2 separate regions of the Homo sapiens genome follow, and region 1 is linked to region 2. The links come from fine-mapping of genetic effects on gene expression. A gene starts in region 2. The other region holds a variant in brackets. All regions are shown on one strand. Distances are between the middles of the regions. Region 1 holds the start of ZNF250 (zinc finger protein 250). Region 2 holds the start of ZNF517 (zinc finger protein 517).

The links. PIP is the estimated chance that this variant, and not a neighbour inherited with it, causes the effect.
Region 1: its variant is the best candidate, but not a certain one, in a credible set for the expression of ZNF517 in amygdala (GTEx, PIP 0.52).

Annotation. Positions count from the first base shown.
Region 1 is chr8:144,898,599-144,914,751 of GRCh38, reverse strand. It overlaps ZNF250 (zinc finger protein 250), which reads left to right and starts at 13,299. Exons shown (of 6, transcript NM_001109689.4): 1 at 13,299-13,353. LOC124902042 reads right to left here and starts at 13,128. Exons shown (of 1, transcript XM_047422534.1): 1 at 12,471-13,128. The coding sequence starts at 13,070. The coding sequence ends at 12,471. RefSeq lists silencers at 12,366-12,445, 13,506-13,615 and enhancers at 12,142-12,745, 12,746-13,348, 13,349-13,953. The variant G/A (reference allele first, on the strand shown) is at 7,242.
Region 2 is chr8:144,793,543-144,806,466 of GRCh38, reverse strand. ZNF517 (zinc finger protein 517) reads right to left here and starts at 7,554. Exons shown (of 5, transcript NM_213605.3): 1 at 7,530-7,554; 2 at 3,520-3,597; 3 at 2,700-2,826; 4 at 2,229-2,342. The coding sequence starts at 3,552. RefSeq lists enhancers at 4,453-5,350, 5,351-6,249, 6,250-7,147, 7,052-7,161, 8,946-9,844 and 3 more and silencers at 7,192-7,391, 7,412-7,571, 7,712-7,961.

The DNA of each region.
Region 1 (16,153 bases), 110 kb before region 2:
GGTGACAGAGCAAGACCATGTCTCAAAAAAAAAAAAAAAAACACAACTTGCCACATTGTTTCCAGGCACAGTGGCTCATGCCTGAAATCCCAGCACTTTGGGAGGCCAAGGTGGGAGGATCACTCACAGAGTTCAAGATCAACGTGGATAATATAGCAAGACCCTGTCTCTACAAAAACATAAATTAATGAATTTTGAAAAACCAGGCCAGGCACAATGGCTCACACCTGTAATCCTAGCACTTTGGGAGGCCAAGGCAGGCAGAGTGCCTAAGCTCATGAGTTCAAGTCCATCCTGGGCAACACGGTGAAACCCCATCTCTACTAAAATACAAAAAATTAGCCGGGTGTGGCAGCATGCACCTGTAGTCCCAGCTACTCAGGAGGCTGAGGCAGGAGAATTGCTTGAACCCAGGAGGTGGAGATTGCAGTGAGCTGAGATTGCGCCACTGCACTCCAGCCTGTGTAACACAGCGAGACTCCGTCTCCAAAAAAAAAAAAAAAAAAAAAAAATTAGGGTCCCTGAAAGGCCAAGAGAGATATATTAGGCTAATTTGGTATGTTAAAATTATGTAGGAAACATTGTCAAATAAGAAATGGTGTCTAGGCCAGGCACGGTGGCTCATGCCTGTAATCCCAGCACTTTGGGAGGCCGAGGTAGGTGGCTCACCTGAGGTTAGGAGTTCGAGACCAGCCTGGCCAACATGGTGAAACCCCCATCTCTACTACAAATACAAAAATTAGCCAGTTGTGGTGACACATGCCTGTTTTAAGTTTCTTCATGATGTTTTTAGTTGGCTCATTAATGGAATAGGTTATTTTTTTTCCATTTTGGCATACAAATTGTCTGTCCTCTATCTCTCTGTCTCTCTTTTTTAAAAAAAGAAACAGGATGTTACTCTGTTGTTCAGGCTGGGGTGCAATGGCACAATCACAGCTCGCTACAGCCTTGACCTCCCAGACTCAAGTGATCCTCACATCTCAGCCTCCACAGTAGCTGAGACTACAGGTGTGTGCTACCATGCCCGGCTAGTGTGTGTGTGTGTGTGTGTGTGTGTGTGTGTGTGTGTGTGTTTGCGTTTGTGTGTGTGTATAGAGACAGAGTCTCATTATGTCGCCAAAGCTGGTCTCAAACTCCTCAAGCATTCCTCCTGGCTTGGCCTCTCAAAATGCTAGGATTACAGGTGTTAGCCACCACACACAGCCCAGATTCTCTTTTTGATTGTAATCTTTCTGCACATTATATTTCTACTATTCAAGTTATTGTTACATATCTCTCATTTTACTTCTTCTGAGAAAACAAAAATGGTATTTGTATTAGTCTGTTCTCACGCTGCTGATAAAGACATACCCAAGACTGGGCAATTTATAAAAGAAAGAGGTTTAATGGACATACAGTTCCACATGGCTGGGGAAGCCTCACAATCATGGTGGAAGGCAAGGAGGAGCCAGTCACGTCTTACGTGGATGGCAGCAGGCAAACAGGAGAGCTTATGCAGGGAAACTCGTTTTTATAAAACCATCAGATCTCATGAGACCCATTCACTATCACAAGAACAGCTCAGGAAAGACTTGCCTGCATAATTCAACCACCTCCCACCAGGTTCCTCCCACAACGGGAACTGTGGGAGTTACAATTCAAGATGAGATTTGGGTGGGGACACAGCTAAATGATATCATTCCACCCTGGCCCCTCCCAAATGTCATCCTCACATTTCAAAACCAATCATGCCTTCCCAACAGTCTTCCAACGTCTTAACTCATTTCAGCATTAACTCAAAAGTCCACAGTTCAATGTCTCATCTGAGACAAGGCAAGTCCCTTCTGCCTATGAGCCTGTAAAATGAAAAGCAAGTTAGTTACTTCCTAGATACAATGTGGGTACAGGCATTGAGTAAATACAGCCATTCCAAATGGGAGGAATTGGCAAAAACAAAGGGGCTACAGGCCCTGTGCAAGTCCAAAATCCAGCAGGGCAGTCAAATCTTAAAGCTCCAAAATTATCCCCTTTGACTCCATGTCTCACATCCAGGTCATGCTGATGCAAGAGATGTGTTCCCATGGTCTTGGGCAGCTCTGCCCCCAAGCTATTCCTTGGCCCCTTTCAGTCATGGCTGGAGCAGCCGGGACACAGGGCACCAAGTCCCTAGACTGCTCACAGTAGAGGGACCCTGGGCCCAGCCCACAAAACCATTCTGTCCTCCTAAACTTCTGGACCTGAGATGGAAGAGGCTGCTGCAAAGGTCTGTGACATGCCCTGGAGACATTTTCCTCATTGTCTTGGTGATTAACATTAGGCTCCATGTTATTAATGCAATTTTCTGCAGCCAGCTTGAATTTCTTCTCAGAAAATGGGATTTTCTTTTCTATCTCATTGTCAGGCTGCAAATTTCTCAAACTTTATGCTCTGTTTCCCTTTTAAAACTGAATGCCTTGGCTGGGCATGGTGACTCACCACTGTAATCCCAGCATTTGGGAGGCAAGGCAGGCAGATCACTTGAGGTCAGGAGTTCAAGACCAGCCTGGCCAACATGCCAAAACACCATCTCTACTAAAAATACAAAAATTAGCCAAGCATGGTGGTGTACATCTGTAATCCCAGCTACTCAGGAGGCTGAGGCAGGAGAACCTCTTGAACCCAGAAGGCAGATGTTGCAGTGAGCCAAGATCATGCCACTGCACTCCAGCCTGGGTGACTGACAGAGGGAGACTGTCTCAAAACAAAACAAAAAAACCTGAATGCCTTTAACAGCACCCAAATCAACTCTTGAATGCTTTGTTGCTTAGAAATTTCTTCTGCCAGATAACATAAATCATCTCTCTCAAGTTCAAAGTTCCACACATCTCTAGGGCAGGGGCAAAATGCTGCCAGTCTCTTTGCTAAAACATAACAAGAGTTACCTCACCTTTGCTCCAGTTCCCAAGAAATTCCTCATCTCCATCTGAGATGACTTCAGCCTGGATTTCATTGTCCATATCATTTTCAGCATTTTGGTCAAAGCCATTCAGTAAGTCTCTAGGAGGTTCCAAATTGTCCCACATTTTCCTGTCTTCTTCTGAACCCTCCAAACTGTTCCAACCTCTGCTGTTACCTGGTTCCAAAGTTGCTTCCACATTTTTGGGTATCTTTTCAGCAACTGGTACCAATTTACTGTATTAGTCTGTTCTCACACTGCTGATAAATACATACCCAACACTGGGCAATTTACAAAAGAAAAAGGTTTAATCGACATACAGTTCCACATGGCTGGAGAGGCCTCACAATCATGGTGGAAGGCAAGGAGGAGCAAGTCACATCTTACATGGATGGCAGCAGGCAAAAAGGAGAGCTTGAGCAGGCAAACTCCCATTTTTAAAACCATCGGATCTCACAAGACTCATTCACTATCACCAGAACAGCACAGGAAAGACTCACCCCCAGTCATTCAACCAGCTCCCACCAGGTTGCTCCCATGACGTGGGAACTGTGGGAGCTACAATTCAAGATGAGATTTGGGTGGGGACACAGCCAAACCATATCCGTATTCCAAAGACTAGAGATGATTCAACGAAGCTGGCAAATCTCCCTCCTCTGGAACCCTACTGGGCCCAGTCTGTTTTCTGTCGGCAATGCTCTGCGGCTAAAGCTATATATCAAGCACTCTCCCTGTGTGCCCAGGGACTCCTCCAGAAGAGGAGGGCATGTGAGGTTGTAAGGGTGGGTTTCACTGAGTGGAGTGTAGGAAAATAGCCTGTCGCCTGGCAAGAATGATGCCCTCTTGAGGCAAAACCACTATGATGAGCAGTGGTTGACTCCTGCATACCAAAGGGTCCTGCAGCAAGGTCTTTATACAATGCCTGTAGCATAGATAACCCCTCATAAGGATGCTTATCTAACCTCCCCATTGGTCACAAGTTTTGCAGGAAAGTCTGAGACATAACCAGCTGCACATGTTTTACCAAAAAAGCTTGCTACTTTTTGGAGGGCAGGTGCAGGGATCCATCATCTCAAAGCTGCCTAAGACATTGCTTCTGTTTCTAAGTCCCTGTTAAATGTTTTCTTCTGGGAAACTGGACTTATCAGCCTCTTTCTTTGACCTCTCATCTCTCTCTGCCTTTGGCGGTAGATTTGCATAGACCTGCTCCCTGCAAAACATACTTCTCACATGGCATAATGAGCAATCTGGGGCCATTTTTTGATGTTTGATAATTGTCAGTGTTTAAGTCTCACCCTCCCTCTTTCCTTTGTGCTCACATCTGGGGAAACTGGTAAGAAAGCCTGGGTGCTCCCTCTGGTGACACTGGAAGATTCGAACCACACAAGCCCCTGCCTGTATGTGGGAACCTCCCATCAGTCCCACCCCCAACCACAATAAAAACCCAGTCCAGCCTCCTTTCCTTGCTGTCTCAAGCCATTTTGGACCTGCCTGGGAAGCCTCGCTGCTGCCCTCAATTATGTATAAAATAAACCTTTTCACACCCCCCTTGGGGTGTATGTTTTTGTGTGACATCATCAGTCTCAAAATTGTGGGTGGGTCATCTGAGTCTGCAGGTAACCACACAGTCGGCACTGTCAGCAGATGTCTGGGTGATGACCACCCCACCCAGTGGTATGGCTTCCATTGCCTCAGCATATTCATTCACCAGCTCTCTGCTGGCTGGCCAGCATGTGCTCTGAGCTGTACTGCTTTGTGTGTCATTGTTGAGTCCAACAGAACCCTCCAAAAGAAGCTCCAGGGCCTGGGGGGAAAATAGGGCCTTTACTGGGCAAATTTCAGCTGGACCACTCGCCTAAGGCTTGAGGGTCAAGAACCACAGTCACCACCAGCCCCTGTTGTGTGTGGGGAGGGGTGGGGAGCACCGTGGCTCCCAGAGACCCCATGTGGCTTCTGTGTGCAGAGTTTTCTCTGCCCATGGGCTAAGGTCTGAGCAGTTCCAAATGTCAGAACATCAACTGTGGAGACTGCTCCCCTATGGAAATTTGATATAAGCAAATGATGGGTTAGGGATAAATGTCATATGTGGGTATTGGAATAACCAGCTAGCCATTTGGAAGATAAAATTAGATCCATTCTCCACACCATGTAGCAGAATAAACTGCAAATGGAACAGAGAGGTAAATGTAAAGAAACAAAACCAAACAAGTACTAGGTGAAAACATGAATAAATTATTCTAGAAACTGAGAGGGAAATTTTTACTACTACTAAAAATCAAGAAACAAAAGAGAAAATATCGATAAATTTAACCACATGAAATTTTTTTACATGACCAAAACCAACATAAAGTAAAAAAATGACAAACTGAGAAAAATATTTATAACATATTACAGCTAGCACATATAAAATAATATACAAAAGATTATTTTAAGATTAGACTTGTCAGGCCGGGGTGGTTCCTACCTGTAATCCCAGCACTTTGGGAGGCCAAAGTAGCAGGACCACTTGAGCCTAGGAGTTCAAGACCAGCCTGGGCCACATAGGGAAACCCTGTCTCCACACAAAATTTTTTTTTAATTAGCCTGGTGCGGTGGCACACTCCTGTGATCCCAACAACTTTGGAGGCTGAGGCAGGAAGATTGCTTGAGTCCAGGAGGTTAAGGATACAGTGAGCCATGATGGCACCACTGCACTCCAGCCTGGACAACAGAGCAAAACCCTGTCTAAAAAAGATTAGGGTATCATTTTCAACAAATGTTGAAACTACTGAGTAACAATATACCAACGAATGAACTCCAGTCCTTACCTCATACAATGTATAAAAATCGACTCAAAATGTATGATCAACTAAATGTATAAAATTTAGAAGAAGAAAACATAGGAGTTCGGGCACCGTGGTTCACGCCTGTAATCCCAGCACTTTGGGAGGCCGAGGCAGGTAGATCACAAGGTCAGGAGTTGAAGGCCAGCCTGACCAACATGGTGAAACCCCATCTCTACTAAAAATTAGCCAGGTGTGGTGGCACGCGCCTGTAGTCCCAGCTACTCAGAGGCTGAGGCAGGAGAATGGCTTGAACCCAGGAGGCACAGGTTGCAGTAAGCCAAGATCGCGCCGTTGCACTCCAGCCTGGGCAACAGTGCAAGACTCTGTCTAAAATAAAAAAAAAAGAAAGAAAGAAAAAAGAAAAAAAGGAAAAAAAAATAGGAGAAAACCTTACAGATCTTGACTTGGCAAGAATTAATTAATTTTATTATTATTAGTTTTTGTTTTATTGAGTGCTTGTGTGCTAAACACTAAGTGCCGGGGCTACATCAGTGAACAAGCAGCCTCCACCTCCAGGTTCAAGGGGTTCTCCTGCCTCAGCCTCCCGAGTAGCTGAGATTACAGGTATCCACCACCATGCCCAGCTACTTTTTGTGTTTTTAGTAGAGATGGGGTTTCGCCATGTTGGCCAGGCTGGTCTTGAACTCTTGACCTCAAGTGATCTTTCCGCCTTGGCCTCCCAAAGTGCTGGGATAACAGGCATTGGCCACCGCACCCAGGCTATTATTATTTTTTGAGACAGGGTCTCATTCTGTCACTCAGACTGGAGTGCAGTGGTGTGATCATGGCTCACTGCAACCTTGACTTCCTGGGTTCACTCCCACCTCAACCTCCCAAATAGCTGGGACTACCCGTATGTGCCACTATGCCCAGCTAACTTTTGTATTTTTTGTGGCCACGTTCCTCAGGCTGGTCTTGAACTCCTGGGCTTAAGCGATCTGCCCACCTTGGCCTCACAAAGGGCTGAGATGACAGGTGTGAGCCACTGTGCCCACCCAAGAATTTACTAAATAAGAAACAAAAAGTATGAACTTTGAAGGAAAGAAATCCATTAATTCCTTTATCAAAATTTAAAACTTTTGCTCCTCAAAATGAAATGAAATGAAAAGGTACAACTGTGAGAAAGTATTTGCAAAACATATATTTGCAACATAGGACCAGTATCCAATCCTATAAAGAACTCATAATAAGACAAATGACTATTTAAAATGGGCAAAAAATGTAAACAGCTGCTTCACCAAAGAATATATGTACACAGCAAACAAGCACATGAAAAGACCCTCAGCAACATTAAGCATTAAAGAAATGCAAATAAAAACCACAATGAGGCTGGGCACAGTGGTTCATGCCTGTAATCCCAGAACTTTGGGAGGCCAAGACAGATGGATCACTTGAAGTCAGGAGCCCGACACCAGCCTGGACAACACGGCAAAACCCTGTCTCTACTGAAAATACAAAACTTAGCCGGGCGTGGTGGTGCGCACCTGTAATCCCAGTTAGTT[G/A]GGGGGTGAGGCAGGAGAATCACTTGAACCCGGGAGGCAGAGGTTGCAGTGAGCCGAGATCACGCCAAGGCACTCCAGCCTGGGTGGCAGAGTGAGACCCCATCTCAAAAAAAGAAAAACACAATAAGATGCCACTGTACTTCCACCAGCATGGCTAATTTTGTACAAATTGACAATACCAAGGGTAGGCAAGTATATGGAGCAACTGGAGCTGCCACATACTGCTCGAGGGGGGGTCAAGTGGTGAAAAACACTTTAGAAAGAGGTTGACAGTTTCTTTAAAACAAAAGCAGGCCAGGCGCAGTGGCTCACACCTGTAATCCCAGCACTTTGTGGGGAAGAGGCAGGTGGATCACTTGAGGTCAGGAGTTCGAGACCAGCCTGGCCAACATGGTGAAACCCCATCTCTACTGAAACTACAAAAATTAGCCAGGCGTGGTGGTGCCTGCCTGTAATCCCAGCTACTCAGTTGGCTAAGGCAGAAGAATTGCTTGAACCCAGGAGGCAGATGTTGCAATGAGCCTGGATCACGCCACTGCACTCCTGCCTGGACAACAGAGTGAGAGTCCATCTCAAAGAAGACAGAGAGAAAAAAAAGAGAGAGGGAGGGAGGGAAAAAGAAAGAAAGAAAAAGGAAAGAAGAAAAAGAGAAAAAAGGAAGCATAGATACACACAAAAACTTACATACAAATGTCTGTAGCTAAAAAATGGAAACAACCCATGTCCAATATCTGGTGAATGGATTAAAAAGTTATCGTACATACATACAATGGAGTATTGCCCAACAATTTAAAGGAACAAACTATTGATATATGCAGCAAATGGCTAAATCTCGAAATAACTATGCTGAGTGAAAGAGGCCGGACCCACCCATACTCCAAAATAATGTATCTTCTATGATTATATAATATCATACAAACTACAAACTGAGTTAGAGTGACAGAAAGCAGACCCAGGGATGGGGGCGTTTGGGGCTGATGGACCTGTTTAGTATCTTAATTGTGGGGATAGTTTCACAGGCATCTACTTAGGTCAACATTTTCATCAAACTAAAAGTATGTTCAATTTATTGTCTGTGCAATTTATACCTCAATAAAGCAACAAAAATACAGCAGTAAGGACATAGCAGTCAAATATATTTTTAAAAATCAATTTATTATCAGCCTTATAGTATATTTCCCCATAAGAAATGTTTATTTCTCTTCTCTGAACAGAGTATTTCTAAATATCCTCAGTTGTACATATTAATTAGGTTGAGGATAAACTGAATGATAGTTAATGAAATCAGATCTGAGGATATGAATTTTAAATTGATTTTTAAGTTTACTCTTTATCACTTATCTGGTGTCAAATTGATTACCTGTAAGTTCTCACATTGCATCACAAAAACACCATCAGGGATTTTTGGCAATTTTTTTTTTTTGAGACGGAGTCTCGCTCTGTCACCCAGGCTGCAGTGCAGTGGCGCGATCTTGGCTCACTGCAAGATCCGCCTCCTGGGTTCACACCGTTCTCCTGCCTCAGCCTCCCAAGTAGCTGGGACTACAGGTGCCTGCCACCACGCCTGGCTAATTTTTTGTATTTTTTTTTTAGTAGAGATTGGGTTTCACCGTGTTAGCCAGGATGGTCTCGATCTCCTGACCTCGTGATCCGCCCACCTCAGCCTCCCAAAGTGCTGGGATTACAGGCATGAGCCACCGTGCCCAGCCTGATTTTTGGCAATTTTTAATGTTAAACATGGCACTTTACCCAGCTGAAAAAACACATTTTCCTAATCACCCTTGGAGCTAGAATTGGTCTTGTAACACACTTTAGACCAAAAATACATAAGTAAAAGTCACAGGGTGCAGTTCTGAAAGACATGGGGTTGGCTGAGCATACATTTGATTTTGTCTTTTGTTTTTTCTCTTTCTGCCTGGAATCTGGATGTGATTCTAGTGATGAAGCAGTCTTCTTGCAATCATGAGGCAAAAAAAAAAAAAAAAAATGAAAGCTGCTTATTAAGATGGCCAATGGAAAATAAAGGGGGAGCCTAGAGGCCTGGTGGCATTGTGTGGCCTTGGATGGGCTCCGTATTCCTAGAAAAATTGACTCATAAAAAAAACCACCTATTTGGTTCAGCCACTGTAATCAGCTTTCTGTTGTACAGTCAATGCCAATCTTAAGTGAGATAGTAACATAATATGTTAAATTGGTTAAAAAAAATGTGAACACAACCTCAAAAGAATAGTTTCCAGCATAGCACTTCTGGTCTCTCTCTCTCTTTCCATACACACACACACACACACACACACACACACACACACGTTTGTATGGTTTCTGGCTCATAACTGCCATAGCCCTTGTTACACTCGTTTGTTATAACATTGGATGCATTAGGCTTCAGAGAACAAAATCTCTCTGACCTCCTGCCCGCAGGACCCTAATCTTCCCCTACCTCTCTGATTGTGGGTCATAAGACCATCATTCCAGAGAGGGTCCCACCTCATAGCCTGGTGGAAAAAATATCGATGTCATGAAGCTTCCATGAAAACCCAAGAGGACTGGGTTTGTAGAGCTTCTGGAGAGCCGAACACATGGAAGTTCCTGGAGGGCTGTGTGCCCTGCAAGGGCACAGAGGCTCTGCACCCCTCTCCCCATGCCTTGCCCTACACATCTCTTTATTTGTATCCTCTGTAATATCCTTCATTATAAACTGGCAAACATAAGTAAGGGTTTCCCTGAGTTCCGTGAGCTGTTCTAGCAAATCAAACCCAAAGAGGGAGTCATGGAAACCCCAACTTGAAGGAAGTCAATCAGTTCTGGAGGCCCGGGCTATGACTCACGTCGGGGACTGGGGAGTCGTGAACTGACTTGAAGGAAGTCAATCAGTTCTGGAGGCCCAGGCTGTGACTCCTGTCGGGGATTGGGGAGTCGGGAACTGAGCCCTCATCCTGTGGGATCCGGCACTATCTCCAGGTAGACAGTGAAGGAGCTGAACTGGAGGACACCCAGTAGAATTGATGGCTTGCTGATGAGGAGAAATCCCCATATATTTTGGGGCTACATAAGTCTTCTGTGTTGTTAGTATGAGAGCAGAGGAAAAATAGGGTTTGAGAGTTTTTCTGAAACAATTTTCTGGTCTCCTAAGGTAGGTGTGGGTTTGAATCCCACTTGTGGCAGTGTGAGAGCAGAAAAAAAAACAGTTTGAGTTTTTCCAAAACAACTGGTGTCAAAACATGGCGAAACCCCATCTCTACTAAAAATACAAAAATTAGCTGGGCATGATGGCAGGCGCCTGTAATCCCAGCTACTCAGGAGGCTGAGGTAGGAGAATGGCTTGAACCCAGGAGGCAGAGGTTGCGGTGAGCCAAGATCATGCCATTGCACTCCAGCCTGGGCGACAACGAAACTCGGTCTCAAAAAAAGGATAAAAAATAAAAAAAGTAAACTGTATACTCATGAACGATACGTAAATTGTGTGTATATATATTATATATATCATATACGATTTGTTGCAGGGACTGTGCCTTACACCATTGTGGCACATAGTTAACAGTTCCTGTAAGGCTGTTGTCTTTGCATCTGATGCTGGAACAGGGCAGACAGTTGGGAAGGGAAGATGGATGTAAAGTGAGGAGAGACAAGTTGAGGTCTGTGACCTCAAGCTGGAGCCCAGGATGCGCTGAAACCCCTTTGTTGCCCTATAGGAGAAGCTGGAGCCTTTAGTCTTGGAGCTGAAGGAGCCAGAGGAAGAGGGGGCAGCTGCTGCCTCATGTCGCCCAGGTGAACCAGCAGACACAATGGCACCTGCCCAGACCTTCTGTAGTCCTCACCATCTCTGGACACACTCTGTAATTCCTACATTTATTCTGCGTATTGCCTACTGTCTCCATTCACATGTATGGTCCAGAAAGACATGGATTTGTTAGGCACTTGCTTGTTCACTGATGTAGCCCCGACACTTAGTGCTTAGCACACAAGCACTCAATAAACATTGTGCTGTTGAAGGAAAAAGAGTGACAGAGACACAGAAGGGACGTGCTAGAGAGGATGTCAGCTGCTAAATCTAAGTGAAGGGCACGGAGGTATTCATTGTATTATTCTTTCAACCTTTATGAATGTATCAACATTTGCAAAATAAAAAAGTTGTGGAGGAGGAAGAAAAACAAAAACCAGGATGCACTGAGGTCTGAGGTGAAGGTCCTAGGAGCATCAGTTCTCTGTTGGGATCAAGGTTGCTGGGACAGAGCTTGATCCCTGTCAACTGCTAAAACAATCCAGGACAATCCAATAGTAGAGCTGAATTTTGATTACCTTGGTCCTGAGCTTCACAGCCCTTTGGCAGAGGAAATCCTGTGACACTGAGGTGTAACCACAAGACTGGCCCAAACTGACCCTATTCTGTTGGTAACAGGAGGTATAGCAGAGCCAAAACTGAAAGTCATGTAACCCGGACATGCACAAAGGAGGAAAATCATAACTCGGAACCAACGTTTCCTCCCTGTGGAGCCAAGAAGACAGGGACATGACCGGAGCTTGAGGGGCGGAACGCTTTCAGAAGGGAAGGGTCCATTATCCTGGAAGATCTGGTGCTGAAACCTGCCATTCCACACCTTACCATAAATGGCCAAGTTTAAAGCCCTCCTATTGAAACCTGCCCGCCAGCACTTCTGTGTGCCAACCTGTCCTCCCTAACCCGTCGACTTTGACCTAAGCCCACATGTGGGAGCCACATTTGAGCCATGCCTCCGGTCTCCTTGGCCGTCGACCTTGAAATAATAAAGCCTTCTCTTTTCTCAAAAACTGGTGCCACCGTTTTGGCTTCTAGTGCGCCAGGCAACGGGCCCATTGCTCGAAACGCGCGTGGTGGATGGTAGCTCCGTGAAGTGCGAACCCCTGCCCGCAAGGGCTGCTAAGTTCGCTGAAGCGTAGCACAGACTTCGCGTCTGCCTGGTGCGCGGCAAGTACGGAATTATCGCCACATCCTCCCGGCCTCCGCTCCCAACAGCACGGGCCGGGCACTCGCTTCAAGCCTACCCCCTAACCTTAAGCCTTCCCCGCCGCCCCCACGCAGCCCCCAGCCCCGCCCTGTGGGGAAGCCTCTTGAGAGTCTGGGCCCGCCCACGCGCCCAATGGACGACGCGGACCTGACCTTCGGGAGTGGGGCCAGCAGAAGGTGGACTAGGCGTCAGCCTTCCCGTCCCCTGACACCGCTCCAAACCAGCCCCACCCTCCCTGCCGCGGCTGTCAGGTCCTGGGCTGTGCCCGAAGCCTCCACACGGGTGTGGCCCGCGCCCTCGTGAAGGCCCGCCCCTCTCCCCCAGGTGCGCGGTGTAAACACACCAAAAAGCAAACACCAGGGCCGAGTGGGCGACGGAGACGGTCGCTGTTCAGTGACGCCCCCTGTCGGGAGCACGCCGGGCCGGACACAGCGAAGAGCGGCTGCGCCTCGGACCTCGCAGCACTCAGCCTCCTAAGTGGGAGGAATAACCTCACGCAAGTCATCAAACAAGAGGACTTCAGTGTTGCAACGAAGGAAGAGAAAGGGCCCCTGAGAAGGCGACATTCGCACTGCAGCGGCGCAGGGACCAGCCAGGCGGCTGAGGGCAAGGTCGTTCCCAGCAGCGGGAACCGCAAGGGCAAAAGGCTCGGAGGGGGGAACGAGCTCGAGTTCCAGGACGGCCGAAGCCAGCGCAAGTCGAGGAGGGACTGCGGGGCCGGCAGGGGTGTCCTCCACAGGGCGACGGCGGCAGGAGCTCGGGAACCGGGACTGCGAGCGGGTAAGGCTCGGCGATGGGCTGTAACCTCCGCGCCCGGAAGTGCGGCCGGGGAGCCGGCCGGGCCCATTGCCCAGAGGTGTTCGGCCCCTCTAGGGATCGCGGAGGTCTGGCTCTCGGTGGCTCCTGAGAGCTCCCTGCAGTCGGTCACCGAGAAAGGCTTCGGGCGGGCAGGCGGGCCAAATGACGTAAACATGCTTGCCCTCCAGGATTGGCGAACTCGGCTGTGGGGGCGGGAACTGAGGGGCAGGAGCCCCCAGGGATTGGCGGCTGCGCAGACGGGGCGGGGCAGCCCTTTGTCTGAAGGTGCTGCGGGATGCCGTTCCTTCGCGCGTGAGGCTGCGGCTCTGACGGTGAGTGGGGGGCGCGTGTCGTCGCCGGCCAGGACCCTCTCCCATCACGGACACCGGAGCCGGTGCGTCCTCCACACGAATCGTGGACTCTTCCCCGCGAGCACGCACTGCCTCCTGCGTTTACGCTGGTCCCCTCCCCTCACGGACGCGCGGCGGCCTCCTCCCCAGGGCCAAGGCCGCGCCCTCTCCCCCGTTCGGGGTTCCCACCCTTCCCCTCGCCCGGCCTTGGACCCCCTCAGGCCCTCCCGCACCCCCGTCCGCCTCGGACGGCCTCGGTCCCTTCCCCGCCCCTACCCCCTTGGGCCCCGTCAGACCGGCGTCCCTCCCACCTTGGATCTCCTCAGATCTCCGGCCTTCCTCCCCCTCGTGCCCTCCCGCGCGCTTTCTACCGGGCGCCGTGCCTAGGGCCAGGATGGCCGGAGTCCTAGGGGCGCAGTCCGGACCCCCGGGCCGCTCTTCTTGCCGCGCTCCTCGGGGTCTCGCGTCCCCTGGGATGGGCCCGGAAAGGGGTGGGGAGCTTCCCCAAAATATAAAAATGGAGGTTTTTTCTGTTTGATGCACATCCTGAGGAGCCCCATGAAGACCCCGGCGGCGCACCGGGAGCGCCACTTTACTTAGCTATAAAAAGTCTTCCCGCGTCAAGACGAAAACGAGCTGCTTTCGTTTCAGCAGTTGGTCGAGTGTGCTACTTGCCGGGTGTCTTATCCTCTCCCCATTTTGCTGTCGATGCTGTCTTTTCTGTTACTGTGTTAGAGCCCTATTTTAATGAATGAGCCCAACTCTTTGCAACACAGCAAATATTTTCCTTGTTGTTTATTGGCTTAATTTTAAAATTGAAAATAATATGCAATACTTCTTCTAATGCAGGCATGTCAGAAATATATAAAAGTCATCCCCCCCGACACTCTGCCAGTGTATGAAGAGGCAGGAGCTGTGAACAGTTTCAGAATTTTTGAATGCCGTTAGAGCTTTAGGCACGCACGCACACCCTTTTTTCTGTCATCAAAGGGAAGCTGGTGTCGTTTGACTAACACCAGGGGCGGCAGGGGGCGCTCCACTCGTCCTCCGCCGGGTGGGTACTCGCAGATTTTTCAGTTCGTAACTTGTCTTCTGGACATAGGTTTCTCTGTCCGGTGGTCTCTACGAAGTGGGTAAGGGTGGGAGATTGCCATTGACATTCCCGCCCTGGACGGGACTCTGGTCCTGTGGGCTTTGACAGGTCACTGCATTCCTGCCAGGTCGACGTTTTGCGTTTATTGGTGAGATTGAAATCCCTTCATTTGTGTTTTCGCCATTTGTATTTCTTTGTGATTTGCCAGCTCATATTTTTTTCCATGTATGTTGAAAACATGCTTCTCAATTTGTCTTTTGACTCTGATTATGGTGTTTGATTCTGGTTTGGGCTTTTTCAAAATAGAAAATTTAAAATTTTTAGGAGTCAAATATTTTGCCTTAAGGCATTTTGGGCTTTGTGCTGTGTTTTAAAGGGCTTTCCCCACTCCAAGATTATTTTTAAAATAAACTCTTGTTTTTCTGTGGTACTTGTAAAATGTTGGATACGTCTGGAATTTATTTTATTGTGGGGTGAGTTTGGAATACAGCTTTTGGAATTCCTTTTTTCCTCTAAATCATAGCCATTTCTAACACCATTGATCTTCCCATTGATTTGAAAAACCGCTTTTGTCATATACTAAATTGTTGCATGCCTTTAGGTCCATTTTTGGAGTTTGGTAGCTTTGATGTGCATATGATTTTGATTTATAAGCTGCAGATCTGTGGAGCTCTGCTTTTTGCTTTTGGTATTTTGCTTAGAACAGCCCTTCCCACATGAAATAATAAAAATATACCTGTATTTTTATTAAAGTTCTTTTTTATTGAATATAATAATTATACACATTTATGGGATACATGTGATATTTTGATACAAGGATAGCATACAATGTATAATGATCAAATCAGGGTAATTAGGATGTCTGTCACCTCAAACATCATTTTTTGTGTTGGAAACATTTCACATCTCTTCTTCTGGTTGTTTTGAAATATACAATAAATTATTAACTGTAGTCATCTTACCGTGGTATCAAACACTGGAACTTATTCATTATATCTGACTGTATGTTTGTAGTCATTAACCCACTTCTATTCATCTCATACCTCCCCCCAACCCCACCCTTCCCATCCTCTGGTAATCATCATTCTACCCTCTACCTCCATGGGACCAACTTTTTTAACTCACACATACGAGTGAAAACATGCAATATTTGTCTTTCTGTACCTGGCTTATTTCAATTAACATAATGACCTCCAGTTCCATCCCTGTTGCTGCAAATGACATAATTTCCTTATTTTTATAGTTGAATCATATTCCATTGTGTACATATACCACATTTTCTGTATCCATTTATTTGATGTACATTTCGGTTGATTCCATATCTTAGCTATTGTGAATAGTGCTGCAGTCAACATGTATGTTCAGATATCTTTTTGATATACTGACTTCCTTTCTTTTGGGTATATAACAAGCAGTGGAATTGCTGGGTCATATGGTGGATCTATTTTTAGTTTTTTTCATATGCTTGTTGGCCATACATATTGTCTTTTTTTGATAAATTACTCAGATCATTTACCTGTTTTTAAATCGGATTAGTTGTCTCTTTCTATTGAATTGTTTGACTCCCTTCTGCATTCTGGTTATTAATCCCTTATCGGATGGATAGCTTGTAAATATTTTCTTCCATTCTGTATGTTGTTTCTTCACTCTGCTGATTGTTTCCTTTCCTGTACAGAAGCTTTTTAGTTG
Region 2 (12,924 bases):
AGGGTTCGGGTGAGAAGGGAACAAAAAGGCTAATAATGGCTCCAGCACTGTGGGAGGCTAGCTCAAGGGGAGCCCATAGGAGAGGCCCAAGGTCTGGCAGGGAAGACAGGCCAGGCATGAGGTGCAAGTTGTACCTCACCCCACAGCCATGTTCTTTACTCCTCTCTCCTTCAGAGTTCACCCACAGTTCCTGCACTCAGCAAACATGTCTGGGCAGGTGCGTAGAGCAGGTGCCTGCGCAGACCTCTGGGACTGGGGGCCTCCTCCCCAGCTCAAGGTTCTTTCTGCAGCCTCCACTGCCCTGAGCTCAGTCCCTGGCACATGGGCCATAGGGAACCAGGAAACCAAAGCAACCTGTGGGCAAGCAAGCCTCCCAAGTGCCAAGGCAAGAGACCGAGGGCACAAGCTGTTCCAGTGTAATAAAGAAAATATATAAAATAAGAATAGTTATACTAGAAAGAGATTATAGATATGATGATATATGAATAGTATTAGTCATCAGCTTGTAGCATTACTCTTTATTCTAATATTATAATAATCTCTGTTCTGGCCAGGCGTGGTGGCTCACGCCTGTAATCCCAGCACTCTGGGAGGCCGAGGCGGCGGATCACAAGGTCAGGAGATCGAGACCATCCTCGCTAACATGGTGAAACCTCGTCTCTATTAAAAATACAAAAAAAAAAATTGGCTGGGCGTGGTGGTGGGCGTCTGTAGTCCCAGCTACTCGGGAGGCTGAGGCAGAAGAATGGCGTGAACCCGGGAGGTGGAGCTTGCAGTGAGCCGAGAACGCGCCAGCCTGGGCCAAAGTGCGAGACTCCGTCTCAAAAAAAAAAATAATGGCCAGGCGCGGTGGCTCACGCCTGTAATCCCAGCACTCTGGGAGGCCGAGGCGGTGGATCACAAGGTCAGGAGATCGAGACCATCCTGGCTCACACGGTGAAACCTCGTCTCTACTAAAAATACAAAAAATTAGCCGGGCATGGTGGCGGGCGCCTGTAGTCCCAGCTACTTGGGAGGCTGAGGCAGGAGAATGGCGTGAACCCGGGAGGCGGAGCTTGCAGTGAGCTGAGATCGCGCCACTGCTCTCCAGCCTGGGCGACAGAGCGAGACTCCATCTCAAAAATAATAATAATAATAATCTCTGTTCTACAATTATAACCTAGGAAAAACCAGGCCATACAGAGATAGGAGCTGAAGGGACACAGTGAGAAGTGACCAGAAGACAAGAGTGTGAGCCTCTGTCACGCCCGGACAGGGCCACTAGAGGGCTCCTTGGTCTAGCGGTAACGCCAGTGCCTGGGAAGACGCCCGTTACTTAGTTGACCTTGGTCTAGCAGTAACCCCAGTGCCTGGGAAGGCACTAGTTACATAGCAGACCTGGAAAGGGAGTCTTCCTTTCCCCAGGGTAGTTAGAGAAGACTCTGCTCCACCACCTCTTGTGGAAGGCCTGACATCAGTCAAACTCGCCCACAGCCATGCTGAGGCCTGACCGTCTCCCTGTGATGCTGTGTTTCAGTGGTCATGCTCCTGTTTCACTTTCATGTTCCACCCTGTACACCTGGCTCTGCCTTCTAGACAGCAGTAACAGAATTAGTGAAAGTACTAAAAGTCATTAAAATGCATAGAAGAAATAATGGCGTAAGCTGTCCTGTCTCTCTCTCCGCCTCGGCTGTCAAACAGGGAAGGACCCCCTGTCCGGTGAACATGTGACTCACATGACCTTATCAATCATTGGAAATGACTCACACTCTTTACCCTGCCCCTTTCGCCTTGTATCCAATAAATAACAGCGCAGCCAGGCATTCAGGACCACTACCAGTCTCCATGTCTTGGTGGCAGTGGTCCCCCAGGCCCAGCTGTCTTTTCTTCTATCTCTTTGTCTTGTGTCTTTATTTCTATGATCTCTCGTCTCTGCACATGAGGAGAAAAACCCACAGACCCTGTAGGGCTGGTCCCTACACAACCCAAGGGTAATGGCACTGTGAGCACAGACCCGGCCCCTGACACCTTGGGGACACCAAAATGGAAAACTCTCGCACTTGGGTCTTCCTGCATAAGTTAGTTTTGACCTTAGACCTACAAGCAAGGCAGTTAGTAGGAAATCTGGCCCTGCTGTGAGGAGCTAAACATACACACCTCCCACTGTAGAAGAAGGGACCTGCAGAGCTGCCCGGAGGCCAGGCCACATTGGCAGCACAGGACACGCCCTGTGGGTGCTTTGTACTCACCTGTGCACAGGCTGGCTTTGGCCACGCTCTGTTCAGCCACCTGCAGAATCAAGGCCCCCGGCTCCTCTCCTTGCTCCAATAGGGAGATCAGTGCTGGTTTGGCAACAAGAAAGCCTAAGCTCAGAGAAGGAAAGCAGCACGTATCAGTACAGGAGGGAGAAGGGACGCCCAGGTGCCTGGCTGGAGGCCATCAGGGCACAGAGTGCTTGGAGTGGGTCAGGAACATTCACTATCCCAGAAGGGGGCAGCTAGGTGGCCAGGGGGAGATGGGGGGCCTGCCCCAGGAGAGAAGCCTCAGGCAGGCTGACGCTGGCAGTGGGTGCCCAACAGGAAGCAGAGAGGGGCTCCTTGGGGAGCCTCCAGCTTCCCCTCAAAAATGTGTCAGACCTTGAATCTGCAATGGAACCAACTTCCTTTGAAGCTAACACAGACGCACCTCCCGGCCCCAGGACCAAAGGCAGAAGCCCTCACCTAGTGAGGCCAGGTTCCCATAGTTCTCCAGCATCACGTCCCTGTAGAGTGCCTGCTGGTCGGGGGCCAGGCAACTCCACTCTATCCTTGTGAAGTACACAGCCACATCCTCGAACACAACCGCCTCCTGCAACCACATACTCTGCTATCCAGGCAGTCAAGGGCTCGGTGAGAACCCAGCAGATGAGAAACATTTGCATGATCTGCTAGAGGCCTCTCTCCTTGCTGCCCACTGCTGCATCCACAGGGCCCAGCAGAGAAAGGGCAGCCCAACACCCCCCGAGTGAGCGGCCTCATTCTCAGCAGAAGCCCCAGAGAGGAAGAGGGAAAAACTGAACTTGGGGGAGGGAGAGAGATTTACCAGGAAGGGGGTCCCAACCTTGGCCTCGCCCTCTCCACAGGCTATCAGGGATTTGGGGAAGGAGCACCTGCACTGTGGGGAGCATCCCCACCCTCTGGGTCTCAATTTCTAACACCAGCAGTGAGTCAGCATCAGGAGAGGGAGGATGGGCTGACCATTCACACCAGGAAGGAGGCAGGCACTGGGGAAGGACAGGGACCCTGCCCTCAATGGCTGACCATAGAAGCTCAGGGGCCAGAGGAGGCCGCAGGAAGCCCACTTCTGCCCAAAGGCTGGAAGGATTTGGCAGAGCCATGTGTGAGGCCTGGCCATAGAGCGAGGAGGCTGTCCTCGGCTTGCAGACTCCATCCTGTGATGTGGGTGGGTGTGAGGCAAGCTGTAAGGTTCTCAGGGCTGAAAAGCTGAGGCTAGGGGCGAAGCAGTCTCCTGGGGCAATGGACGGGCTCAGGGGGTGCTCACCTGAGGTCCAGGCATCGGGAGTGCCATCGCCATTCCAGGGTCCCTCTGTGGAGGAGCAGATGCTACAGACAGTGAATTCTGAGGGAACATAGAGCCATGAGTGGAAAGAGCCCAGGCCTAAGGCCCTCCAGCCCCCCAGAAGGCCCCTCCAGATCCAGAAGGGAGCAGGAGAGGGTAAAGTGCTAGGGCAATCACATCAGCCGCCTCCTTCACGTCCCAAGGAGGTGTATCCAAGCTTCTCCATGGGAACACCCACTCCTTCCAATGTTTTCTGGCTCTCACCTTGCTGGGAGGCCTTCTGTGACCACCATTTTTTAAACTGCCACCTCCCCTCCTGCCTGGGAATTCCTTATCCTCGCTCCTTGCTTTATTTTTCTCCATAGCACTATGCCATCTGACATAAGACAAGTTAACTTCCTTGCTCCTTATCTGCCTTCCCCAATTAGACAAGGCCTCTGGTCTGTACCCCTAGGGCCTGAGGAAGGGCTTGGCACACAGCATGTGCTCAGAAAGGATTTATGAAATGAACAAAGCGTGACTGGTTAGAGCAAAATTATTGTTTTGTTTTGTTTGAGACGGGGTTTCGCTCTGTCGCCCAGGCTGGAGTTGGTGGTGTGATCTTGGTTCACTGCAACCTCTGCCTCCTGGGCTTAAGATTTCCTCCCAGGATGGCCAAGGTTGCACCATTGCACTCCGGCCTGGGCAACATTGCTCATTATGAAATGAACAATGGGTGACTCTGCAACCAATAAAACCATGTTGTGGGAACATCAGAAAACATTCTTGCATTTTACTACATGAAACAAGCAGACTGTAAGCAGAAAAATAAAGCTGGTAGCATAAAACTCTAGCTCTCTCTGCGTCATAGAATTATGAGTGGTTCCTCTTTTTCTCCTATTTTTCTTTCCTTTTTTTGAGACAGGGTCTCAATGCGTGACCCAGGCTGGAGCGCAGTGGTGTGATCTCAGCTCACTGCAGCCTCAACTTCCTGGGCTCAAGCAATCCTCCCACCTCAGCCTCCCGAGTAGCTGGAACTACAGGCGCATGCCACCACACCCAGCTAATTTTTAAAAGTTTTTATTATTGATGAGGTCTTACTATGTTGCCCAGGCTGGTCTTGAACTCCTGGACCCAAGTGATCTCTTGCCTCGGTCTCCCAAAGTGCTGGGATTACAGGTGTGAGCCACCACACCCGGCCTCTTTCTATTTTTCTAATTTAACACTTTTTTGGCCAGGTGCGGTGGAGACAGAGACCATCCTGGCTAACACGGTGAAACCCCATCTCCACTAAAAATACAAAAAATTAGCCGGGCATGGTGGCAGGCACCTGTAGTCTCAGCTACTAGGGAGGCTGAGGCAGGAGAATGGCGTGAACCTGGGAGGCGGAGCTTGCAGTGAGCTGAGATCGCGCCACCGCACTCCAGCCTGGGTGACAGAGTGAGACTCCGACAACTCGCTCTTGTTGCCCAGGCGGGAGTGCAATGGTGCAACCTTGGTCATCCTGGGAGGATCCCTTAAGCCCAGGAGGCAGAGGTTGCAGTGAACCGAGATCATGCCACCAACTCCAGCCTGGGCGACAGAGTGAGACTCTGTCTCAAACAAAACAAAACAATAATTTTGCTCTAAGCAGACGTATACAGAGTAGGCATGAGGCCCTGTTCTCCTCACTCTTCCCTTCAACAGACACTTGAGCTCTTGTGTTTGGGTGAAGGTCTCCGGGGCTATCCATTTCTGTAGAGCTGGAGCCGTCTAAGTAGCTGCCACTTTGTAAAGAGATGTTTCCCTTTAGGCATCAGTTAACAAAAAGCATGTGTTTAGAGGCCAGGCACAGTGACTCATGCCTGTAATTCCAGCACTTTAGGAGGCCGATGAGGGCGGATCATTTGAAGTCAGGAGTTCGTGACCAGCCTGGCCAACATGGTGAAACCCTTCTCTACGAAAAATACAAAAATTAGCCGAGTGTGCTGGTACGCACCTGTAATCCCAGCTACTTGGGAGGCTGAGGCAGGAGAACTGCTTGAGTAGACAGAGGTTGCAGTGAGCCAAGTGTGCCCCGCTGCACTCCAGCCTGGGCGACAGAGTGAGGTTCTCTCTCAAATAAAAATAAAGAGTGCGTTTAGAGGCAGGAGGGCTGCTTGGTCACAATGCTATGAAGTGACATTTGGCAGCAGAGCCCTTTTGACATGTTAGGGTACGAAGGGCGATGGGGGTGGATCAGACAGATTCGTGAATCACCCCTGCACAGAGGGCACAGACTGCAAACGCATGGAAGAGCAGGGCCACACCACCCCCACCCAGCCCCCACTCACTGTCTGTCCAGGGCAGTCTGTGGCAGGACCCACCTGGGCCACTGCGATGGCCACACGTGTTGTCCTCACCCCAACAAGGCAACCAGAGTATCTCAGGGTATGAGGCTGCCAGAAGACTTGATCCCCGACCCCTCAACACATACCACCCTCCACTCTGGTAAGAACTGCAACCCAGGACTAGGGTAGGACTTGGACTAGGAGCGGTAAGTTACTGCTGCTTTGTGTTTGCTCATGTCTAGGGAGTGCATGTCCTCAGGGAGGGGCTACCTGGTTAGAGGGGAAAAAAACCTGCTTTTAGTTCTATCTTCGGAATTAGGAAGTAAACCTTCAATCAGATTAAACAGCACTGAGCTAAAAATAATGGAGCAGTGATATGATGACAACAGATCAAGCTGTTGCTGAGACAGAAAATGTCAAGGGGAGGAGGGTGCTAATTTTAGATGAAGGACCACCAAGAAATGTTACTGGGGGAACTCATTTAACTGGGGTCTGGAAGACTAGGAGGGGTCACCTCCTTCCATACGCAGAATAAGCCCTGTTCCTCGGGGACCTGGGGCACCCGGCTCACTACGCCGCAGCCATGCCAGCCTTCTCTCTGTTCCCCCGCCTGGGAGTTTCTCCTCAGGGATCTGTGGCTGCTTCTCTCCTCCAGCAGGTTTCAGTTCAAATGTTAACTCTTTTTTGTTGTTGCTGTTGTTTGCGACAGAGTCTCCCTCTGTTGCCCAGCCTGGAGACCAGTGGCGCGATCTCGGCTCACTGCAAGCTCCGCCTCCCGGGTTCACGCCATTCTCCTGCCTCAGCCTCCCGAGTAGCTGGGACTACAGGCGCCCGCCACCACGCCCGGCTAATTTTTTGTATTTTTAGTAGAGACAGGGTTTCACCGTGTTAGCCAGGATGGTCTCGATCTCCTGACCTCGTGATCCGCCCGCCTCGGCCTCCCAAAGTGCTGGGATTACAGGCGTGAGCCATTGCGCACGGCCAAATGTTAACTCCTTACAGAGCCTCCCCTGACCGCCAAGGCTACCCTAACCCCCTAACTCTCACAATTTTATTTCCTTGGTTTATTCTGTGCGAGGCCCTTGTCAAAACCAGAAGTTATTTTGCTGCGTTATTGCCTGTTACACTAACGCCTCACCTCTATTACAATTCATGCTCCTGGAGGCGAGGCGGGCTGTTCGCTCACTGCGGGGTCCCCAGCACCGGAACGCTCACAGTTAAATACCCAACAGCTATTTACGAAATGACTGTTGGTCCAATAAATGCCCCAACCCGGGGAGGGGGCAAAACTGCGCAGGGTAAATGAACGCTGCGGGAAACGGCGTCCGCCGGGGAGCGAGGCTGCCGGGAAGAGCCCGCCATCGGACGGAAGCGAGGGGCAGAGCCTGGTCCTCCCCGGAGCAGCCCCACCTCGCCAGGCCTCCCCGCCTGCAGCCTCATCTCTGCGCAACCGTCCGGCTCGGCGGAGCGGGTCTCGGGGGCCCGGCCGCACGCCCCCGACCACAGCCAGCATGGACCGGGGCGCAGGGCCCTTCGCCCCGATAAGGGTTCGGAACCCAAGGCGAGCGGAGGCGACAGTGACGGCTGCGGGTCCGCTCCCTGCCGAGCTCCGCGCGCCCACTGCGGGGGCTACAGCCTCCACCAGGCCGGGCTCGGAGGACCGCGCCCCTCCCAGTCCCCGCCCCGCGGCCGCGGCCGACTCACCCTGGGCCGCCGAGACAGCGCGGGGAGGAGCGCACGGCGCCCGGCTCTCAGGCTCCGGTTCCTTCCCCGCCCCCGGAAACGGCCGCTGCGCCGCTCTGGGAGGCCTGGAGGACCGCGCGCCTCGATGGCGCTCGCGTCTCGACGGCTTCTAGCCCCTGCGGCGCGGCGGTCGCCAGGGCCCCAGCTAGGGGCGCGCCTGGGGGGTTCCGGGCCAGACCGGGTATCAGTCCCAGGCCCGACGGGCGCGGAAGGGCGTCGACGTTCTCGGCGCTCCGTTTCCCCCGGGATCGGAGGCAGCGAACGTTCACCCCTTGCGCCCACTCTCTGCCCCCGGGTGGCCTGCGGGGGTTGGGGAGCACGGTGGGGGATCGACTCCCGGACCCGCAGGAAGGGCGGAGCGGGGGCGTCCGGCCAGGGTCGGTCTCATATAAATTTATGACATTGTTTAGTATGACTTTTTTTTTTTTTTTTGAGCCTGAGTCTCGCTCTTGTTCCCCAGGCTGGAGTGCAATGGTGTGATCTGGGCTCACTGCAACCTCCGCCTCTCAGGTTCAAGCGATTCTCCTACCTGAGCCTCCGGAGTAGCTGGGACTACAGGTTCCCACCACCACGCCCGACTAATTTTTGTATTTTTAGTAGAGACGGGGTTTAACCATGTTGCCCGGGCTGATCTCGGACTCCTGATCTCAGGTGACCCGCCCGCCTCGGCCTCCCAAAGTGCTGGGATTACAGGCGTGAGCTACCGCACCGGGCCAGTTTCTGGGATCTTGAAGTGTCTTTGCTGCTCCCTCTGATCACTCTCAGACCACCTCTCCTGTCTGCACCCAAGGGTGGCCATTCTGACTTCTAACAGCCCTGTGACTTCTGTAAACATTTGTATGCTCTTTGTATTTACTAATTTAATCCTCATGGTAATCCTATCAAAATACTACTGTTCCCATACTAAAATGAGGAGAGCATAGTGTCCCTGTTATTTGCCAAGGTCTAGTCTCTTTTTTTGAGACGGAGTTTCACTGTTGTTGCCCAGGCTGGAGTGCAATGGTGCCATCTTGGCTCAACATTATCTCCACTTCCCAGGTTCAGGTGATTCTCCTGCCTCAGCCTCCCGAGCAGCTGGGATTACAGGCATGCGCCACCACGCCCGGCTAATTTTGTATTTTTAGTAAGGAGGGGGTTACTCCATGTTGGTCAGGCTGGTCTCTAACTCCCGACCTCAGATGATCTGCCAGCCTCGACCTCCCAAAGTGCTGGGATTACAGGCGTGAGCCACTGTGCCTGGCCAAGGTCTCATCTCTTAAGTAACAGAGCTGGGATCCAACCCACAGACCTGGCTCCAAGTCACATATTCTTTAGCCACTAAACTGTGTTGTGAAACCATCATGCAAGTGGGAGGAACAGTTCAATATATGAAACTCGGTGTTTCCCGAGTTCCCACTCACCTCCACACACACTTTAGAGATGGTTTCACACACACTCTAGGTTTTCAGATCCTCTGAATTGCAACCAGACCCTGGGAGGAGGAATGAGGATCAAAGAAGGTAAGGGACTCATCCAGAGCCACAGCTGGTTGGGAGCCGGGTCAGATTTGAGCACAAGACAGACCAGGAACCATCATTTTCTTCCTTTTCACAAGGACAGGGGAAACTGGGTGAGGAGGGTGATATCTGTCTAAGTAGGCTTAGCCCAGCACTCCACTATGGGTGGTGCTAAACTTGTATGATGTCTACATAGATCCTTGTCCCAGGACTGGATGCCCCTAGGTTCCTCAGATTCTTTGGGGGACCAAGGGTGTCTCCTGCATTCACACTGCTGACAGCGGATTTGCTCAGGAGTGAGGCACAGGCTGGGTAGGACAGAGGCACTCTTCACCAGGAGGGAATTGTGGGTACTTGCTGTGTCCTGACAGCCACAACCATCTTTGGGGGAGGGATCATGACTCCCCTCAGGGCCATGGCACATAATTTCAGACAATATGGGTATTGTGGTGAACTTGGATGTCCAAAAATTGTATGTAAATCCTGTGCTATTCTCTCATTGTAAAAGGATGCCAAAACTTCAACTATTTAATCACACATGTGAAGGGGTGGGTTGCCCCTCCACACCTGTGGGTGTTTCTCGTAAGGTGGAACGAGAGACTTGGAAAAGAAAAAGACACAGAGACAAAGTATAGAGAAAGAAATAAGGGGACCCGGGGAACCAGCGTTCAGCATATGGAGGATCCCGCCAGCCTCTGAGTTCCCTTAATATTTATTCATCATTTGTGGGTGTTTCTCTGAGAGGGGGATGTGTCAGGGTCACAAGACAATAGTGGGGAGAGGGTCAGCAGACAAACACGTTAACAAAGGTCTTTGCATCATAGACAAGGTAAAGGATTAAGTGCTGTGCTTTTAGATATGCATACACATAAACATCTCAATGCTTTACAAAGCAGTATTGCTGCCCGCATGTCCCACCTCCAGCCCTAAGGCGGTTTTTCCCTATCTCAGTAGATGGAACGTACAATCGGGTTTTATACCGAGACATTCCATTGCCCAGGGAGGGGCAGGAGACAGATGCCTTCCTCTTGTCTCAACTGCAAGAGGCATGCCTTCCTCTTATACTAATCCTCCTCAGCACAGACCCTTTACGGGTGTCGGGCTGGGGGACGGTCAGGTCTTTCCCTTCCCACGAGGCCATATTTCAGACTATCACATGGGGAGAAACCTTGGACAATACCTGGCTTTCCTAGGCAGAGGTCCCTGCGGCCTTCCGCAGTGTTTGTGTCCCTGGGTACTTGAGATTAGGGAGTGGTGATGACTCTTAAGGAGCATGCTGCCTTCAAGCATTTGTTTAACAAAGCACATCCTGCACAACCCTTAATCCATTTCACCCTGAGTTGACACAGCGCATGTTTCAGAGAGCACGGGGTTGGGGATAAGGTCATAGATTAACAGAATCTCAAGGCAGAAGAATTTTTCTTAGTACAGAACAAAATGGAGTCTCCTATGTCTACTTCTTTCTATACAGACACAGTAACAATCTGATCTCTCTTGCTTTTCCCCACACACAGGTGGGGTCCCAGAGAATGTTCACCCATGGCTTTATGTCAGGTTGACATGACGTATCCAAGCCATATAGACGGCAGGGGTCATGGAGATTTAGCACTCACTAACTCGTTGTGCTTCACAAAACAGCACCTTAACCCCTCTCAGAAAAATTCTAACACGCACCTCCAAGCTGTCCCCAAGCATGTGCAATCTCCATCCTCCCAACCACCCCACCTCTTCCTGCTGGCATTGGTCCCTGGGGTCTCCCCTCACCCACTCCTGAATGGGTAACAGGGGCTCCTATGGACTACCCCACCCCTGAGGCACTGAAAGCACATGGGAAAACTATCTCAGAGAATCTTGTTGGAAATACCTTTTCACAAGACATAGCTCCACAATTATAAGACACTAAATTAGAAAAGCAGCGTGCATGAGGTGGGTCATGGTGGCTCACACCTGTAATCCCAGCACTTTGGGAGGCCAAGGCGGGTGGATCACGAGGTCAGGAGTTCAAGACCAGCCTGCCCAAGATGGTGAAACCCCGTCTCCACTAAAAATACAAAAAATTAGCTGGGTGCGGTGGCGGGCGCCTGTAATCCCAGCTACTCGGGAGGTTGAGGCAGGAGAATCGCTAGAACTCTGTGGGCAGAAGTTGCAGTGAGTCGAGATCGCGCCACTGCACTCCAGCCTGGGCAACAGAGTGAGACTCCATCTCAGAAAAAAAGAAAAGAAAAGCAGTGTGCATGAAAAGTACTTAGATCAGTCCCTGGCCCATAAAAAGTGCCTAGCATTGGCCAGGCACGGTAGCTTATGCCTGTAATCCCAGCACTTTGGGAGGCCAAGGCAGGTGGATCACCTAAGGTCAGAAGTTCAAGACCAGCCTGACCAATATGGTGAAACACCGTCTCTACTAAAAAATACAAAAATTAGCTGGGCATGGTGGTGTGCGCCTATAGTCCCAGCTACTCGGGAGGCTGAGATAGGAGAATCGCTTGAACCCGGGAGGCGGAGGTTGCAGTGAGCCCCGATCACGCCATTGCACTCCAGCCTGGGCAACAAGAGCGAGACTCCATCTCAAAAAAAAAAAATATATATATATATATATTCATTCATTACGGAGTGATCCCATTTTAGCCATATGTGATGGTGTGCCCATATGTGGCATACAATTATGCTACGGGGGCGCGGTAGGGGGCAGGGAGATAAGGACACATCAGTTGTTGGGGATTGGGGGTGCGGGCAGATAATGCTGGTTGGGGAGGGGAGCCAAGCTGAGCAAGACAGAGGATCACAATTTCTCATGTTTCTACCAAATTACTGCTGCATGTATGTGACAAGAAACATTTGAAGAACAATTTCAGAAGGAAATAACTTTTTTTTTGAGGCACAGTTTTGCGCTTGTTTCCCAAGCTGGAGTGCAATGGCACAATCTCAGCTCACCACAACCTCCACCTCCTGGGTTTCAGTGATTCTCCTGCCTGAGCCTCCCGAGTAGCTGGGATTACAGGTACCTGCCACCATACCCAGCTAACTTTTGTATTTTTAGTATAGACGGGGTTTGTCCATATTGATCAGGCTAGTCTGGAACTCCTGACCTCAGGTGATCCGCCTGCCTCGGCCTCCCAAAGTGCTGGGATTACAGGCATGAGCCACCGCACCCGGCCGGAAATAAATAATTTCTAACAATAAAGTTTGAACAGCAGGTTGGGGTGACGTCGGATGGCATAAGGGAGGTCACCAGGCCACTAGCACAAGCAGAGGCACTGTGTGGGGAGGGACTAATCCTGGCCTAAGAAAGATGGCTCCACCCCAGAAGGCTGGAAAACCCCATGTCCAGTGCTTGCGGCCTCGTCTGGAGTGGCTGTCAAGTGACCCAGAACTGCATAGCCCCTGCTGTGTACCAGGCTGTGTGGTCTCCCGTGAAGGTCAAGACTGAGCCCAGTCACACAGTCCTCAGGACTGTCAGGTGGATGCTGGCAGGGCCATGTCTCTTCCAGCCTTAAAGCGGCCTGGTCAGTCTCCTGGCTGCACGTAGGGTCTTGGTAGCCGCATCTCATCCCAGAGACCCGTGAGACCATCTTGGGGACCCCACAGCCTGTGTGTCCAAGCACTCTTCTCACCTCTATCCCGCACCCAACTCTCCTTCTGCTCCTCCAGAGAAGCAGATTTGTTCAGGAGTGACGGACAGGCTGGGCCTGTGGGCCAATTTTGGGCTGACCCCAGAACCCCTCACCCTGCCCCCAGGGTCCAGTCCTGCCCCTCAGCCCCTGGCCCTAGCTGTGGGCTGTGCTGCTTCCTGAGTCCCCACCGGGCAGCTCCTCCTCCATCCCCCTGCCGACCCTAGGGGAGGGCCTCCTGCAGCAGCCCCT